Homo sapiens: one gene and its partners. The protein of the gene in region 1 interacts with the protein of each later gene in a biochemical or structural test. Each region holds a gene or a part of one and is shown in the gene's direction. Other genes may lie near its edges. The genes, in order: EPAS1, KPNA3, KPNA5 and KPNB1.

Region 1 (4,318 bases):
CACCCCCCTGAGGGTCGATTCTCCACCATGGGTGGTGAGAGTCTGAGATGAGAGGGAGGGGAGAGGTGAGGGATCTGCTCCGAGGCCACTTGGACACTGTCAAAGAGAAGGGGCAGATTCCTACCAGGGTCTGGAAGGACAGATGGCTTGTTCAGGCAGAGGGCCAAGTTGGAGTAATGTTGGGAAGGATCATTCCAAAAACACAGAGAACATATTGAGGCCTGGGATTAAGCCCTCAAACCCACGACTTCATTAAAGTGTCTGCCTGTCCCTGGGGATGTAAGTCACTGGGGACCCCGGCAGGGTTTTCAGCCCTCGGCTGCTCCAATCCTGGAAACACCCTTGAAGCCCCATGCTCCCCAGTTCGCAACCCGCTGCCACCCTCTCCTGGCCTTGCTGTGGCTGCCGGAAGAGTGGTGCTCACCCTGGACTGTGTCAGCCCCTTTTAGATGGGTTCTACAGCGGCCACGTGAGGATTGCAGCTAAAGAGAATCTGAAACGCAGCGGGCCCTTGGCCAGTAGGTCTCGCGGCTTGTTTTGTGGCAGTACTGAGGCAAATAGCTCAATAGCCCAATTCTCCTCTCCCTCTCATACCTTCCTTGTCTACCCTTCCGGATCTGTTCCTCAGGGAAGAGTGGCTCCTAATATATTTAGTCTCTGAAAATTAAATGTCCCAGGAGACTGTTCCGTTTAAAGGGAGTCTCTACGTTGACTCATAGCCAGAGTCAAAGACCCATGTGTTCCAGCTGAGCCCCAGGGTGTTGGGGGGGCCTAGCCCCAGGCATGCCTTCCAGACCCTCTTAGGGCCTTCTCTGCGGTTTTTGGGCCTCCTCTGCCTTGGGGTGAGCCCGATGGTTGTGGGTGTTCACCTCCCAGGCCCTTGTCTCCACAGGGAATCAGAACTTCGAGGAGTCCTCAGCCTATGGCAAGGCCATCCTGCCCCCGAGCCAGCCATGGGCCACGGAGTTGAGGAGCCACAGCACCCAGAGCGAGGCTGGGAGCCTGCCTGCCTTCACCGTGCCCCAGGCAGCTGCCCCGGGCAGCACCACCCCCAGTGCCACCAGCAGCAGCAGCAGCTGCTCCACGGTGAGCAGCCCTCTTATGGCGAGGACACAGAGAGGGCTCCGTATGTATGACTGCTGCCAGATGGCTGAAGGGACATTTGGGACAGGTACTGTCCTTCTCAGGTTATCACAGAGCCCCCTAGAGTGGCCGTGACACTTACCTACCAGGTATCAGAGCTGTTTTCTTCCTTTTAGTGTTCATCCCCCAACTCCATTGAAATAAGCTCCTTGAAGGGCTTTGAGCCCCCAGCTCAGTCCCCATACAGGGCAGTAACATCCCGTATGTGGCACAGAGCTGCACAGTTTGCACAGCCCTGCTGGCCACAGCCTGTATCCTGTTTGGTCCTCAAGACAGGACAACCTGTGAAGCGACAGTAGCCTCATTTTATGATGAGGAGACTGGAATTTAGAGAGGTTGATGAATTGACCTAATTCATACAGCTTGTTAATTAGCAGCCCCTCTACAAATAGTTGTGTGGTGGAATGGAATTGAACCTTTGGGTCCAGGAAGGTATTTCTTCTTCCATGCTGGACTTCTGGGGAGACCAGTGCCATATCTTTGACTCTGTCCCCCTCCTTCCTGGCCCCTAGCCCAATAGCCCTGAAGACTATTACACATCTTTGGATAACGACCTGAAGATTGAAGTGATTGAGAAGCTCTTCGCCATGGACACAGAGGCCAAGGACCAATGCAGTACCCAGGTAGATGGCTGTGGAGATCAGGCTAGGGTGTGTGCCTGCTGTCTGGTGGACAGCAAAGGCTCACATCCATTCTTGTAGCCTCATCCCTTTGTTGTAAAGAGCAGTGGAGACGTTTGGCCAAGGCCCAGGTCCCCTAAAGAGGTAGGGGTACAGGGTAATGGAGCCTGTGGTCACCCCCTCCTCCCACTGTCAAATCCAGCTCTTCCAGCATATGTGTCTCCTACTTAGATAGCTTTCTTAGCACACATGAAAACCGAAATGATACCACTGCACCTTTCTTTAAACAGGCCCTACATTTAACAAGCATAGCCAGATGTATAAAACATGTATAAACATAGGGGACAATTAATCCCTTTATAAACACATTCATCTTGTGATTTTAAAAAAATAATCATTTTTATATGAAATGCACTTTAAAATAAATAACATCTGTTTGACAATTTTTCATTTACATAAAACTTTTCAGGAACACATTTATTACATAAGGCCAATGTTCTTGCAAAAACTATGTAAACAAGGATAAGGTAGAGGGAGGGGTACGTGTTTTACAAAACCCCAGGGAAAACCATTAATCCCCCATTTGTCTTAGTCTTGAGTTCAACCAGATTTCTGCCTTGCCACTTAGTTTGTTTCTTGATCCTACTTGGCACAAATCCCAGCTACTCTGCAAAACATGCCCAATTTTAGCTTTTCTATCACCCTCCCTCCTCAGCACTCCTGTAGTATATATCATGTGGCACTTAATCACAGCTATCTGCTTCTGCTCCTTAAAGATTGCTTAGTATTGCAGTCATTAGTCAGCTGACACCCACTGAGGGTGTCAGTCTCTGAAGTTAGAAACTGTTTTCCGCATCTGCTTGTATTCCCCTGCTTGTATCATGCGTCCGTCATGATACTGCCACCCTAAGGGATGATCTGAGTATCTGCTGATTGGAACCAAAGTCTCTGTCCCTGGGGTCTGGCTGTTAGGCTGTTACTCTGCGAGAGTCCACAGATGGACCTGGGCACTTACTGCTTGCTTAGGCCCGTGCCAGCTTACAGGAGGGAGAAGAGGACAAAAAAAAGCCACAGTGTGCACCACAGGCCTAAGCATTGTAGGACAAGGATAACCACCACAGGCTGGAGTAGGCAGGGCTGACTCTGTGGAAGAGGGGCTGCCTCGGCTTCAAGAGAGAAGGCGGGCTCCGGACAGGTGGGATGGGGAGAGGAGAACATTTCTCAATGTGCAGGGTGAAGAGGGGATAAACATGGGGGAAGGCTGGTACATGATACAAGGTCGTGTACATGACACAGCCAAGTCTGAGGTTTTCCTGATAGGCCCTCGGGAGCCAGTGGAGGCGTTTGAGCAGCACTGTGAAACAGTGCTTGAGATGAATGGCTCTGCAGGAGCTGAGTTGGAATAGTGTTTGTGAGGTCGTACCAACCCCCTTGCCTCTTTGCCGGTGCTGTCTCCCCTCAGACGGATTTCAATGAGCTGGACTTGGAGACACTGGCACCCTATATCCCCATGGACGGGGAAGACTTCCAGCTAAGCCCCATCTGCCCCGAGGAGCGGCTCTTGGCGGAGAACCCACAGTCCACCCCCCAGCACTGCTTCAGTGCCATGACAAACATCTTCCAGCCACTGGCCCCTGTAGCCCCGCACAGTCCCTTCCTCCTGGACAAGTTTCAGCAGCAGCTGGAGAGCAAGAAGACAGAGCCCGAGCACCGGCCCATGTCCTCCATCTTCTTTGATGCCGGAAGCAAAGCATCCCTGCCACCGTGCTGTGGCCAGGCCAGCACCCCTCTCTCTTCCATGGGGGGCAGATCCAATACCCAGTGGCCCCCAGATCCACCATTACATTTTGGGCCCACAAAGTGGGCCGTCGGGGATCAGCGCACAGAGTTCTTGGGAGCAGCGCCGTTGGGGCCCCCTGTCTCTCCACCCCATGTCTCCACCTTCAAGACAAGGTAAGTGGCAGATACTCAGCTGTACCAGCAGGGCCGAACCGAGAGGCACCCACTAGTAAGATAGCTGGACCCCCAGGGAGGCCCCTGCCCCTCTCCCCAGCCATCTGATACCCCATTTAGCCCTTCTCTGAGCTCAGACTTTGGGGAATCACCTCAAGCCATGTGAGGCCTAGTGTAGGATGGGTTTTTATCTGGGCTGCCACTGAGGGCAGGCAAAGAAGTGGCTTGTTGAGAGCCCTGTACCTCAGTGTCTCCCTTCGGACCACCACCAGAGTGCCTTTCGTATCTCGGTTCATCATCTGAGCCACACAGAAAATTGAGTGATGATTTTCCCTGGTTGAAAACAGCAAAAAGATACCCCTGCCTCCCCTTGCCTTTTGGCTGCCCCCGGGTCCTCGCCACTGCAGCCTCTCCCAGCTGTGCCTAGGCTCCAGAAATGCCTTCCCATCTCCCCAGCATGCTCATTTCACCAGCTGCGAGCTCACTGGGCTAAGGCACAGGGGTTGGTACATGACCTGCCACTCCCAGGGGCCGCTGGTACTTGCCCTTTATAGAGCAGCCAAACTAGTTTTCAGTGGGAGCAAAAGGCAGAGGAGAGACAT
Region 2 (4,249 bases), on another chromosome or scaffold:
TGCTGACTGTATTGTGTTCTTTTTGGGGAAAAGATAATTATTATTATTTTAAGAGATGGAGTCTCACTATGTTGCCCAGGCTAGAGTGCAGTTGCTATTCACAGGCATGACCATAACGCACTACAGCCTCCAACTCCTGGGCTCAAGATAGCCTCCTGCCTCAGCCTTCCATGTAGCACGACACCCTACTGGGAAATAGATAATTATATAAATAAAAATATTTCTTCTCTTTTGTTGTCTAGGTTGAGTACCTTGTACAGCAGAATGTAATACCACCGTTCTGTAATTTACTGTCAGTGAAAGATTCTCAAGTGGTTCAGGTGGTTCTAGATGGTCTAAAAAACATTCTGATAATGGCCGGTGATGAAGCAAGCACAATAGCTGAAATAATAGAGGAATGTGGAGGTAAGAGTGGATTGATGGAAGAAGAGTATTTGAGCACTGGAACTCTGAAACATAAGTTCTTTAAAGTCAACTTACTAGACAGAAAATTACTAGGATACGTTGTTTTTAAATGATCACAGTATGTTGCTTTTCTTTATTCACTATATTTGCATTCCAAGAGGATTTTCCAGAAGACAGTAGTCCATACTTTGCAAAATCAGGTTGTGAAAGTCACTGTATAGCCTTCTAGAGATTGACAACATAGCTTTTTTTTTTTTTTTTGGAGACAGAATCTTGCTCTGTCGCCCAGGCTGGAGTGCAGTGGCACAATCTCAGCTCATTGCAACCTCTGCCTCCCGAGTTCAAGCAATTCTCACACCTCAGCCTCCCAGGTAGCCGGGATTACAGGCGCACACCACCACACCCAGTGGATTTTTGTGTTTTTAATAGAGACGAGGTTTCACCATGTTGGCCAGGCTGGTCTCGAACTCCTGACCTCAAGTGATCCACCTGCCTCAGCGTCCCAAAGTGCTGGGATTACAGGCATGAGCCACTGCGCCTGGCCTGACATTGCATTTTAGGAAACACTAATACTTCTCTTGAAGTCACAGTGCATGACAGCAAATTTAAGAGCCCTTACAACACTACATAAATTTTAAAGCTTTATTTAATCCAGCATTTCTTAAACTTCTTAACAATGAAACACTTTTTTTGTGTGTTATTACCATGTAATTCTGTGGACCCCACTTTAGGAAATATTATTTCATATAGTTGGAAAAGGTTACTGACTTCTGAGTCACCTAGATATTTTGTTTCAATCTTGTAATGATTCTTAGGATTTCCACAACTACATCCTGAAGTTATTACTGTGGCAGTTACTTTGAAATTTTAATGAGAAATAATTGTGATTTGACATACTGTATTATTCTTTAATGACATGTGAAACATATGTTAAAATTCTGTTTTTAAATGTACATGTTCAATATGTACTAACATGTTTAAACCTTAAATTAGTTTATCATAATGTCATGTTTTAGATTTTACATTTCATTGACTACTTTATATGAATATTCTATTGTTTATTTATTTATTTATTTTAAGAGAAAACAAATGCAGTAGTACCGTAGAATATTCAGACTGGGAGGATTTCTTTCTTTCTATTTATTTATTTATTTATTTATTTATTTATTTATTTATTTATTTATTTTTTATTTATTTATTTTTTTTTTGAGACAGAGTTTCGCTCTTGTTGCCCAGGCTGGAGTGTAATGGCTCACCGCAACCTCCGTCTCCCGGGTTTAAGCAATTCTCCTACCTCAGCCTCCCTAGTAGCTGGGATTATAGGCATGCACCACCACGCCCGGCTAAATTTTTGTATTTTTAGTAGAGGCAGGGTTTCTCCGTGTTGGTCAGGCTGGTCTTAAACTCCCAACCTCGGGTGATCTGCCCGCCTCGGCTTCCCAAAGTGCTGGGATTACAGGCGTGAGCCACTGCACCCAGCCGGGAGGGTTTCTTGAGAAGAAATTATCCCACAGATTTTAAGGAGTCTTGTCCAAGGTGACAGAAGTAGGTTGTGATAGAAGCAAAGTTAAAATCCAGATCTTCTTACTATTAAGATAATTAAAAATTGTAGTCAGGTTCATAACACAGTAAGTTTGAGCAACTTAGAGAATTACTACTCTTCAGCTTTTTATCAATATAGTTACTTTTGTCTATAGGAGTAATAGGATACATATTAATATTTTATAATTGTATAAAGCACTTTGGCAACGATTTCCCCCATTCTTTTGGTTTATTAGTATATAAGAAAAAATTGCAACTATTTTAAAATAACCTTCAAAAAGACATTTCAAGGAAGAATATTAAGGTGTGAAATTGATAAACATGTATATGATGTGTGGAGTAAATATATTGGAAATATAAATGAAGGCATTCTATGATATCTGTTCTGGAAATATTTTCTCCCAGGTTCATTGTGGCTATAGGACATAAGACCTCTATTCATTTTTTAAAGAAAGTTTTTCAAAATTTAAATCTTTATATCTTTTATACCAATTATAAGGTTCTAAAAACTCATTTTGTGGTTATATAAAGGTAATAACATTTGGAAAACAAAGAGAAAGATACAAATTACTTTATGAGGCAGTAAGATTAATAAGATTGGCCGGGTGCAGTGGCTCACTCCTGTAATCCCAGCACTTTGGGAGGCCAAGGCGGGCGAATCACGAGGTCAGGAGTTCGAGACCAGCCTGGCCAACATGGTGAAACCCCGTCTCTACTAAAAACACAAAAAATTAGCTGGGCATAGTGGTGGGCACCTGTAATCCCAGCTACTTGGGAGGCTGAGGCAGGAGACACTTGAACCCAGGAGGTGGAGGTTGCAGTGAGCCGAGACGTGCCACTGCACTCCAGCCCTGGCTACAGAGTGAGACTCCGTCTCAAAAAAAAAAAAAAAAAAGAAAGAAAGAAAAAATGCCCAGGCGCAGTGGCTCACGCCTGTAATCCCAGCACTTTGGGAGGCCGAGGTGGGCAGATCACGAGGTCAGGAGATCAAGATCATCCTGGCTAACATAGTGAAACCCCGTCTCTGCTAAAAATAGAAAAACTTAGCCGGGTGTGGTGGCGGGCGCCTGTAGTCCCAGCTACTTGGGAGGCTTAGGCGGGAGAATGGCATGAACCCAGGAGGCGGAGCTTGCAGTGAGCCGAGATCACACCTCTGCACTCTGCACTCCAGCCTGGGTGACAGAGCGAGACTCCGTCTCAAAAAAAAAATAGATTAGTAAATTTATATTAAAGCACTGTGGGGGAGTTGGTTCTAGTACTGTCACAAACTTGCCATATAACTTGAAATAAGTCTCTTTACATATTTATGCCACAGCTTCCCTCTGTCAAATGGATTGTTTGGGTGTTTTTTTAGACTGTCTGCCTCAGGGATCCGGGTACCTCAAGGGCTTCTAAGAAGGAAAAAATTAGTGGGATTCTGGTCCTCCAACTAGAAGCAGCCCCGTGTTTTGTCTGTTTTTTAGACAAACCACTATCTTAGATGGGGGAGCAGTGTGTTCTGAGTTCCTTAGGATTTCTCCATGATTAAAATGAGTGTGGTTTTGATTAGTATCTCCTTATCAATTAACCAGTTATTTTGATTATTTTATTTTTACCAGGTTTGGAGAAAATTGAAGTTTTACAGCAACATGAAAATGAAGACATATATAAATTAGCATTTGAAATCATAGATCAGTATTTCTCTGGTGATGATGTAAGTAGATATTAAAATAGCGTGTATCTTCATGTAAATGAAAACCTATACATGATGTAAATTTACTAAGAGTTTTCCTTTTATTATTAGGATGACATAAGTTTGTACTGTATTTCTATTAGACATTCCATCAGTCACTTTCTCTTAAATACTTTGAAACTTCATTATAAGGTAAAGTTGTAAAAACAGTTCTTGTTTCATTTCTAATCTATTAACTAGGAAGAAATAGTAATTATATAAGTGATATATGTTCAGATAGGTTAAATAAATCTAGGTCCCAGATACAGAAACTTAACAATGCAGTTTCGAAACGTGTTAAATTTTAAATTGTTAAATTTCTTAATAAAATTATTGATTTACTCGAATATTTTTAGTTGGTTAAAGCATTCACATAGAATTATTTGCTAAGAGGTAAAAAGTCAATTCCACTTACATCATAATGTATAGTATCATAACCTAATAAGGATTTTTTTCTTGTTTTTTACAGATTGATGAAGATCCCTGCCTCATTCCTGAAGCAACACAAGGAGGTACCTACAATTTTGATCCAACAGCCAACCTTCAAACAAAAGAATTTAATTTTTAAATTCAGTTGAGTGCAGCATCTTT
Region 3 (4,318 bases), on another chromosome or scaffold:
TCTGCATTACCCTGTCTCTTACATTTATTGAGTAGCCCAAAGGAGTCAATTAGAAAAGAAGCCTGCTGGACTGTTTCTAACATCACTGCTGGAAATAGAGCTCAGATTCAGGTAACTACCCTTCAGATCTGAGAGTAGAACAGCAAGGTCTAAGAAGCCAGTTTGGACAAAAGTTAACACTTTTACTAAAAAAGATTCCTTTTTAAAAAGATACCGAAAAAGTATTTTAAAGAACATGGGCTTTCCTCCTCTAAAATAATAACATTTACTTGTAGTATTCTAGTGAAGAACATCAAGTGTGTGTGTGTGTGTGTGTGTCTAGCACAGTGCCTGACACATAATGGTTTGTCTTTAGAAAGATATTTTTTTGCATTAGTTTTAAATAAGTTATGCAATAATCTTCCTCTCAAAGCTTTTAATGATTTATTAGGGTTCTATCAAGCTTCTTGTGTCAGTGATTACTTATCCATTTTGATCAGTCACATGGCTTGTGCTTTATCATCTCTAAAATTTATATTTTGCTATTCTCCAGTCTTTAAAAAGCTAATTTCCTATGTAAAAAGAAAAATATTTGAAAAGTTTGCTGACAGAATAGAAATTAAAAATTTATTTTAATGTCAAGGTTCCAAAAACCTTGACATTTTGAAGCCATTGAGTTTCAAGATTTTTTTTACTGGTAATATTTTAGAAACAGTATTTGTACTGATTATATATTTTTCCCCCTCTCAGGCTGTTATAGATGCAAATATTTTTCCTGTTTTGATTGAGATTCTTCAGAAAGCAGAGTTTCGTACCAGAAAAGAAGCAGCTTGGGCTATAACTAATGCAACATCAGGAGGTACTCCAGAGCAAATAAGGTATGATATAAACTTCTTAATTGTTTTTTACATGTAAATGAGACAAAAGTTGAAATAAAACATATTTTAATTTACTGATGGAACTAAAATATTATTTCTAAGTCAGTTTGATAATATGAAATGACAGCATGTATTATATCAGTTACTCATTCACAATTTTTTTTTCCCCATTTAACGTGTAATTAACATCATTCTCCTTGATAGGCTGCTTAAGAAAAATCAGAGATTAAAAAATCCAAACGGGAACGGTCTATGTTAATTTGCAGAGTACACTGTCATGGGCATTAAATATTTTTTAATCACAAAAATATAGCTTTATTATATAGAAATGGCTAATAAATTTGAATATCCACTTACTTTAAATAAAATTGAAATAGACATTGTTTATATGGTGATGTTCTGGTCCTCATTGATTGTTAGCCTTGCCTATGGATAGTATCTTTTATTTTTCTATACTAGTTACCTTTTTTTTATATTAGCTTTTTGAGTCTAGGCTTTTTAAATTTATTTATTCTGCTGACAATGTAAATAATAGGTGCATGGGCTTTTAAGTCAGCCTGATTTCAAATCCTGCTCCTTCAGTAAAAGTTGTGTGGTCTTGACAAAGTCATTTAACCCCTCTAATCTAGTTTCTTCATTTTAAAAAATGAGTTCCAGTAATGAATAGTTATGGCAGTGTAAGTCAGCCTTCCATATCCTTGGGTTTTGCATCTGTGGATTCAACCACCTGCAGGTCAAAAATATTAAAAAAGAAAAAGACAGTAAAAAATGCCAGTACAACACTACAAAATAATGCAAATTTAAAAACACAATACAACAATTAGTAACATCATAGCAATTACATTGTTTTAGGTATTATAAGTAATCTAAAGATAATTTCAAATACTTGGAAAGATATGCATAGGTTGTATGCAAATACTATGCCATTTTATATAAAGGAATTGAGCATCTGTGGATTTTGGTATTGAGAGGAAGGGTGTCTTGGAACCAATCTCCGATGAAACCGAGGGACTGTATCTTGATAGTTAAGTGAAATTTATGTCTTTGAAGTGTCAGCACAGTGCCTAAACATATTATTAATAACTAATAGATAATTAAGAATAGCTACTGTTATTATTTGTAATCATCATAATTTTTATTATCAGTATTGATTCCTGAATCTTTTATCATGTACTTTCACTCTTTTTTATCTCCCATAGCAAAGTTTCACTTACACCTCTACTAAAAGCTTCTACAGAATCGTCTTGTTCGGAGGATCCCTCCATGAAACTAGACTTCTTAGAAAATATTTTCTAATGCATATTTGATTTATTTTTCAATTTATAAAACAAGTCAAACTACAGTGCTATTTTATAAATCACATAATTTTGAAATCTACCTATTGTGAAATTGTCGTCTTTTATTGCCTTCATTTGTAGTATTATCTTGCTCTCTCAAATTTGTATAGCTGTATATTGCTAGCATCTGTCTCTGCCTTTTATTTTCTATTCTATCTCTTTGCTTTCATCAGTATTTCCACTTTGTGTCATGGATACAAGCAGTAATAAATGAAGACCCTTCCTTTGTTCTATTTTGTATTTTTTTAATGTTGATGTTACTTTTATTTTATTTGGGCTGCAAGTTTGTTCACCTGCAAATAGTTGTATTTTTTCAATTAATTTTTGTGGTTATATCTATTCTGTATATTATTGCTTTAATTTATTAGTATGGATTAAGTATCCAAACTGAGATAATTATTTTTCTAACCACTTTTATCATTTCATTAAGTTTGCATATTTGGGAAAAGACCTCTTGATCTCAGATTAAGTTATGCATCCATACCACTAGTTGAGTGCCTACTATTGCCAGTTATTGTGCTAAGTAAGTCATTTCAGTTATTGAGCACCAGCAATGTGTCTGGTACTTTCATGTATTTTATCTCCTGTAATCTCTTAACTATGAGGCAGTTATTCATTCAACAGATATTTTTGACCAATTACAGTACAGTATAGGGCAAATGAGTGCTCTGGTGAAGGTATATACATCTTTTTTTTTTAAGAGGGACAGAAACTTTTATTAAATGTCTATTGTGTTCTTACAACTACTCTCTGAAGTTGGTACTATTATTATTCCCATTTTTAAGATGGGGAAACTGAGACACAGAGTAATTGCTCAAGGTCACACAACTAATAAGGGGTGGAATTGGGACTTGAAGGCACACAGCCTGGCTTCATAGTATGTTTTTAACCTTTGTACTTAATATGGACTTTTTGCCAAGTGAACAAATCAGTTACTTCATTTACATTATAGAGTACAGAAAACCAGCCAATAACTAGAAAAGGACATGCATTCAGAAATTAAAGAATTTTTTTGTGAATATTATTTATGAACATTATTCACAAGAGAGCCTGTTTTGTTCCTACAGGCCTTCTATCCTTCTGAAACACAGTATATGTTTCAGAACATTAGCTGTGATTGTTTTTATGGGAAATTTTCTCAAGTTTAATTTAGATGTCTCTTCTTTCTTTCCATTTCTGTCTACCCCCATATGACCTCCGTGTGTGTGTGTGTGTGTGTGTGTGTGTGTGTGTGTGTGTGTCTGTGTGTAGGCTTGCCTTTAAAAAAAAAAAAAAACAACCTTTCGAACCTACGTTTAATGCTCAGATGAGCACCATGAAAAACAGGCCGAAGTACCAGTTTGTGTCTGTATTTTATAGTCTTTGCAAGACCATTTATTGCTAATTATGTTAAATTAGAGAATAGGTGAGTAAAGAAAATTTTAAGTTTCCTATGTGAGAATTTAAATGTGTGTAATGTTTGCATTTGTATAGGAATACTTTTTCTTAATTGCTTATGTAACATTTCACTATGAAAAATATTTTTGTGTCATTGTTACAAACAGTACTTAAGTCTTTTTAAATCTTTTTTTCCCTGTTTCTTCTCTTTTATATTAATCTGAAGGTATTTGGTAGCTTTAGGCTGCATTAAACCACTTTGTGATCTTTTGACTGTTATGGACTCCAAAATAGTCCAAGTGGCTTTAAATGGACTTGAAAATATTTTACGTCTTGGAGAACAAGAATCTAAGCAGAATGGAATAGGCATTAATCCATACTGTGCTCTCATTGAAGAAGCATATGGTAAGCAATCAGTTAAAAATTTGCAATTATAGTCAGTTCTTATATCTGTCATACTTTCCCCTTCCAGTTCCCTACAATTTTTTTGTTGTAAAAGCAGTATGTATTTTTTTAAGTTTTAAAATGTCACCCGTAATTTTATTACCCTAACAATTTATTTTTATTATTTACCTTTTTTTAACATTGTCTGTATGCACAAATACTTTACATTGACTTAATTGTATTGTATGTATAGTTTTATGTTCTACTTTTTAACATTTTGGAGAAATTTTACATTTCTACATAATTTTTATTATAATGGCCACATAATGTTATGTATATACTATATATATATAAAAATATGTA
Region 4 (4,318 bases), on another chromosome or scaffold:
ATGCTAATGCTCGACGAGAAGTCAAGAACTATGTGAGTAACGCTTATCTGTTTGGTTATATTGCCCAGAGAACAAGAAATCGCTTTCTCAGATCTTTTGCTATTTGCATGGGATAGAGCTAACAGTGTGATAGGTTTCTGGGACCTCAACTTTACCTAAAGATAAAAATTGTCTTTGTCTTAAATCTTTCTCAACACAGCTTGTCCATTCCCATTGATGGATTGGAATTCTTTTTAGATGACTGAGGTAGGCTGCAGCAGTTTGGGAAACTTTAATTACGTGCCATAATTGGTAAAATCTGTTTGGCAAATGGGAGTAGTGTACAAATTGGTGCTACATTTGTATAAAAATTAGGGAATTTGTTAATAGGTATTTCCAAGCTCTCCAGAAATTCCGATTCGGTACTTCTGGAGTACAGCTCAGGGAATTTTTTTTTTTTTTTTTTTTTGGAGACAGTCTTGCTCTGTTGCCCAGGCTGGAGTGCAATGGCATGATCTCGGCTCACTGCAGCCTCCGCCTCCCAAGTAGCTGGGATTACAGGCACCCACCACCATGCCCAGCTAATTTTTGTACTTGAAGTAGAGACGGGGTTTCACCATGTTGGCCAGGCTGGTCTTGAACTCCTGACCTCAGGTGATCTGCCTGCCTTGGCTTCCCAAAGTGCTGGGATTACAGGAGTGAGCCACCTCGCCTGGCTGTTGTTGTTTTTAAATTAAGTTCTTTAGTGATCTGTCTTACATGGGTAAGGCACAAAGAGGAGTGAGTTAAATATCTGTGCAGTCATCATTTTGTCCTTGGTATTTGAGTGGAAACTAGTGGGGAATTCCTACATATGTACTTGTGCAGGACATGGTTATGCACATCATACTTGCTATTTCCTGGTTCTAGATATCAGCATTAGGTAAAGTAGTGCCCTGTAAGGCAGTAACTTCTGTATCTGGTTGTGTACCTCCTTCTGTCACCAATCTTGCATACCCATGATAAGGAGCCGGGTTATTAAATCCAACTTGGTTTCAAATCGTTTTGGAGCATGTAGAGCTGTTTCTATTCATGTTGGTTCTGCTTGTGTAATAACAACATTTTAATTCCTTCTCCCTCAGCTAAGTGACATAAATGGAAGTATATTCTATCACTGGAAATCTCGATACTGATAGTGCCCATTCAGTTTCTCATCTTCCTTAATTTACACACTAGTAAATGGGATAAGATGTAATTGGAATTGTAATTGGCTTATTTTTTGGCACATCACTCTTAACACCAACCCTTTAAAAAAAAATTAGACAATAATGGCTGGGCGCAGTGGCTCATGCCTGTCATCCCAGCACTTTGAGAGGCCGAGGTGGGTGGATCACCTGAGGTCAGGAGTTCGAGACCAGCCTGGCCAACATGGCGAAACCCTGTCTCTACTAAAAATACAAAAATTAGCTGGCTGTGGCGGTGGATACCTGTAGTCTCAGCTACTCTGGAGGCTTAGGCAGGAGAATTGCTTGAACCTGGGAGGCGGAGATTGTGGTGAGCCAAGATTGCGCATTGCACTCCAGCCTGGGTGACAGAGTGACACTCCATTTCTTAAAAAAAAAAAAAAAAAAAAAATTAGATAATTTGTATAGGCATGGTTAAGCCCTCGGGCATGAGAAAAAAGCTAACAGTACCTTGGCCTTTTTCCCTTTCATAGCACAACGATAACTAATACTAAGTTTCACTGTTGGTGATCTTTTTTGAAATCTGGATATTGGGGCACAATTGGGAGCTAGTTTCTCTTTTCTGATAATTGAATATTACTATTAAGGTTACCTCTAGTTTAAACAGAAAACTTTTAGTACTCAGGAGGTGGACATCCGTAGTTTCTAAATCACCTCAAGTAATATGGAGTCTTCAGAAAGCAATCTAAAGGAAAAAGGTAAAGGTAGAATGGGATTCAGTGCACTCCACATATGTACTAGGAGACTATGTAGTGTGGTGTGAAGGCACCCTGGACTTGGGTTAATAATACCCATTCAGCCCCTGATATTTTGGACAATTCACCTTGTTTTTCCCCCTCATTCCCTCGTGTCTTTGACATACCGTTTTTGTCCATTCTAGCTCTGCTAGTCCTCGAGAGCAAAGCCTTTCATTTAACATCAATCAGAACTGTTTGTAGTTGGGTAGAGCTGATGGGGGTGGGGGCCAGGGATGATGATATACCGTATAAGAAGGAAAGGGGGAGTTCATTATTGGTGCTAGCTGCAAAGCAGGATACTAAGTGATCCGACCCAGTCAGCAGAGCTGGCCTGAATATCTGGCAGCTATTCTTTGTCCCGTGTTCATGCCAGAACAGTTAACTGTTTGCCTTTGAGTGGACTACTGATTCTTAGTGAGTTCATTGACTGAATTAGCTGATCACGGTAATAATTAGCTCTAGGTCAATTGTGGCTTCATCTTTTATCATACCTGTGCCTTTACTCTTTACATAAATGGTGGCGTGGTTACCATGTCAAGCGAGACATGTTTAATGACAAGTGGATCTTGTTTTGACATCTGGCTAGATTTTGGTATCTGTCAGTGATAGAACAGTTCTTTGATTCTTGGGCAAACAGAACAAATCCTTTCAGATTGGAAGTTATATAAAGATTAGTTCATAGGTGTTATTAACATCAGCAACGTTGTTTTTGTATTTAGTGATGTTGTTACTTGACCAAGGCCTTTCTATGTAAGTCACCCCGAATGCTGAGTTGTTAGTGATTAGAAGGAAAAAGTTTTGTTTCAGCCCACGTCTCATGAGTAAGATCTCCTTGGATCAGATTAGACAGTGATCTACTGTGAATAAGACCCACCTGAATGCCCCAGAACTAGCTTCATTCTAGTGTCCATGTCTGTCTACAAAACGAGGGTGTGAACATCCTTTCCTTATAACAGCAACAATGAGCCTGGAAGATGAGTTTTGTCCCCATCTCTCTCCTTTGCCATTTACTGCTACCTCCTCTTGTAACTTCTGGTTTCCCACCTCGTGTTGAAGGTTGAAGTGAGGTGGGATGACTGGTTTTGTTTCTAGGTTCTAGGGCAGTGTTGATTATGCTGATGTTGCTACTGAGGCTGGTTTTTTCTGACAGCCTTTCCTACTTCTCCGTATTATAGATAAGAATTCTGAGGCCAGGCACAGTGGCTCACGCCTGTCATCCCAGTACTTTGGTAGGCCGAGGTGGGTGGATCACCTGAGGTCAGGAGTTTGAGACTGTCCTGGCCAACATGGTGAAACCCCATCTCTACTAAAAATACAAAAACTAGCCGGGCATGGTGGCAGGCACCTGTAATCCCAGCTACTTGCTGGGGGGAGCTAAGGCAGGAGAATCGCTTGAACCCAGAAGGCGGAGGTTGCAGTGAGCCGAGATCGCGCCATCATGCTCCAGCCTGGGGGACACGAGCGAGACTTTGTCTCAAAAAAAAAAAGAATTCTGAGACAGCTGCCTGGGCACAGTGGCTCACACCTGTAATCCTAGCACTTTGGGAGGCCAGGAATTTGAGACCAGCCTGGGCAACATAGGGAGACCCCCATCTCTACTAAAAACCCAAAAAAGTTAGCTGGGTGTGATGGCATGTGCCTGTAGTCTAAGCTACTCAGGGAGGCCTGGGAGGTCAAGGCTGCAGTATCGTTGTGCCATTGCACTATCGTTTTGCTACTACACTCCACCCTGGACAACTGACTGAGGCCTTGTATTTTCCTTTTTTTTTTTTTGAGCCTGGGCAATATGGTGATGCCCTGTCTCAACAAAAGATAGCTGGGCATGTCAGCATATCCACCCCTGTAGTTCAGTTACTCAGGAGCCTGAGGCGGGAGGATAGATTGCACCGTAGAGATTGAGGCTACAGTGAGCTGTGATCGTGCCACTGCACTCCAGTCCGGGCAACATAGTGAGACCCTGTCTTAAGAAAGAAAGAAAAAAAAGAATTCAGAGACACTAATATAAGTATGGTGGTGGGCAAAATGTGGTCAAATAGTGTTAGAAATTTGTATCTTTTGTCTTTTTTTTTGGTGCAGGTTTTGCAGACATTGGGTACAGAAACTTACCGGCCTAGTTCTGCCTCACAGTGTGTGGCTGGTATTGCTTGTGCAGAGATCCCAGTAAACCAGTGGCCAGAACTCATTCCTCAGCTGGTGGCCAATGTCACAAACCCCAACAGCACAGAGCACATGAAGGAGTCGACATTGGAAGCCATCGGTTATATTTGCCAAGATATAGTAAGTGCTTGCCTAATGTATCTGGTTTATATACCTCTGATTGCCTCTAGCTGTGACATCAATGATATTAGTACTACCTTATTGAATCACGAAGAAAGCCAA

What was found.
Region 2: the proteins of EPAS1 (region 1) and KPNA3 form a complex in vitro, tested with the Homo sapiens proteins (one study listed by BioGRID).
Region 3: the proteins of EPAS1 (region 1) and KPNA5 form a complex in vitro, tested with the Homo sapiens proteins (one study listed by BioGRID).
Region 4: the proteins of EPAS1 (region 1) and KPNB1 form a complex in vitro, tested with the Homo sapiens proteins (one study listed by BioGRID).

Annotation. Positions count from the first base shown.
Region 1 is NC_000002.12:46,377,002-46,381,319, forward strand, and holds part of EPAS1 (endothelial PAS domain-containing protein 1), read left to right. Parts: intron 1-892; coding exon 893-1,086; intron 1,087-1,655; coding exon 1,656-1,766; intron 1,767-3,225; coding exon 3,226-3,716; intron 3,717-4,318.
Region 2 is NC_000013.11:49,701,777-49,706,025, reverse strand, and holds part of KPNA3 (importin subunit alpha-4), read left to right. Parts: intron 1-242; coding exon 243-405; intron 406-3,545; coding exon 3,546-3,640; intron 3,641-4,127; coding exon 4,128-4,226; 3' UTR 4,227-4,249. UniProt on the Homo sapiens protein: Functions in nuclear protein import as an adapter protein for nuclear receptor KPNB1. Binds specifically and directly to substrates containing either a simple or bipartite NLS motif.
Region 3 is NC_000006.12:116,725,766-116,730,083, forward strand, and holds part of KPNA5 (importin subunit alpha-6), read left to right. Parts: coding exon 1-111; intron 112-729; coding exon 730-857; intron 858-3,797; coding exon 3,798-3,976; intron 3,977-4,318. UniProt on the Homo sapiens protein: Functions in nuclear protein import as an adapter protein for nuclear receptor KPNB1. Binds specifically and directly to substrates containing either a simple or bipartite NLS motif.
Region 4 is NC_000017.11:47,652,845-47,657,162, forward strand, and holds part of KPNB1 (importin subunit beta-1), read left to right. Parts: coding exon 1-32; intron 33-4,015; coding exon 4,016-4,216; intron 4,217-4,318.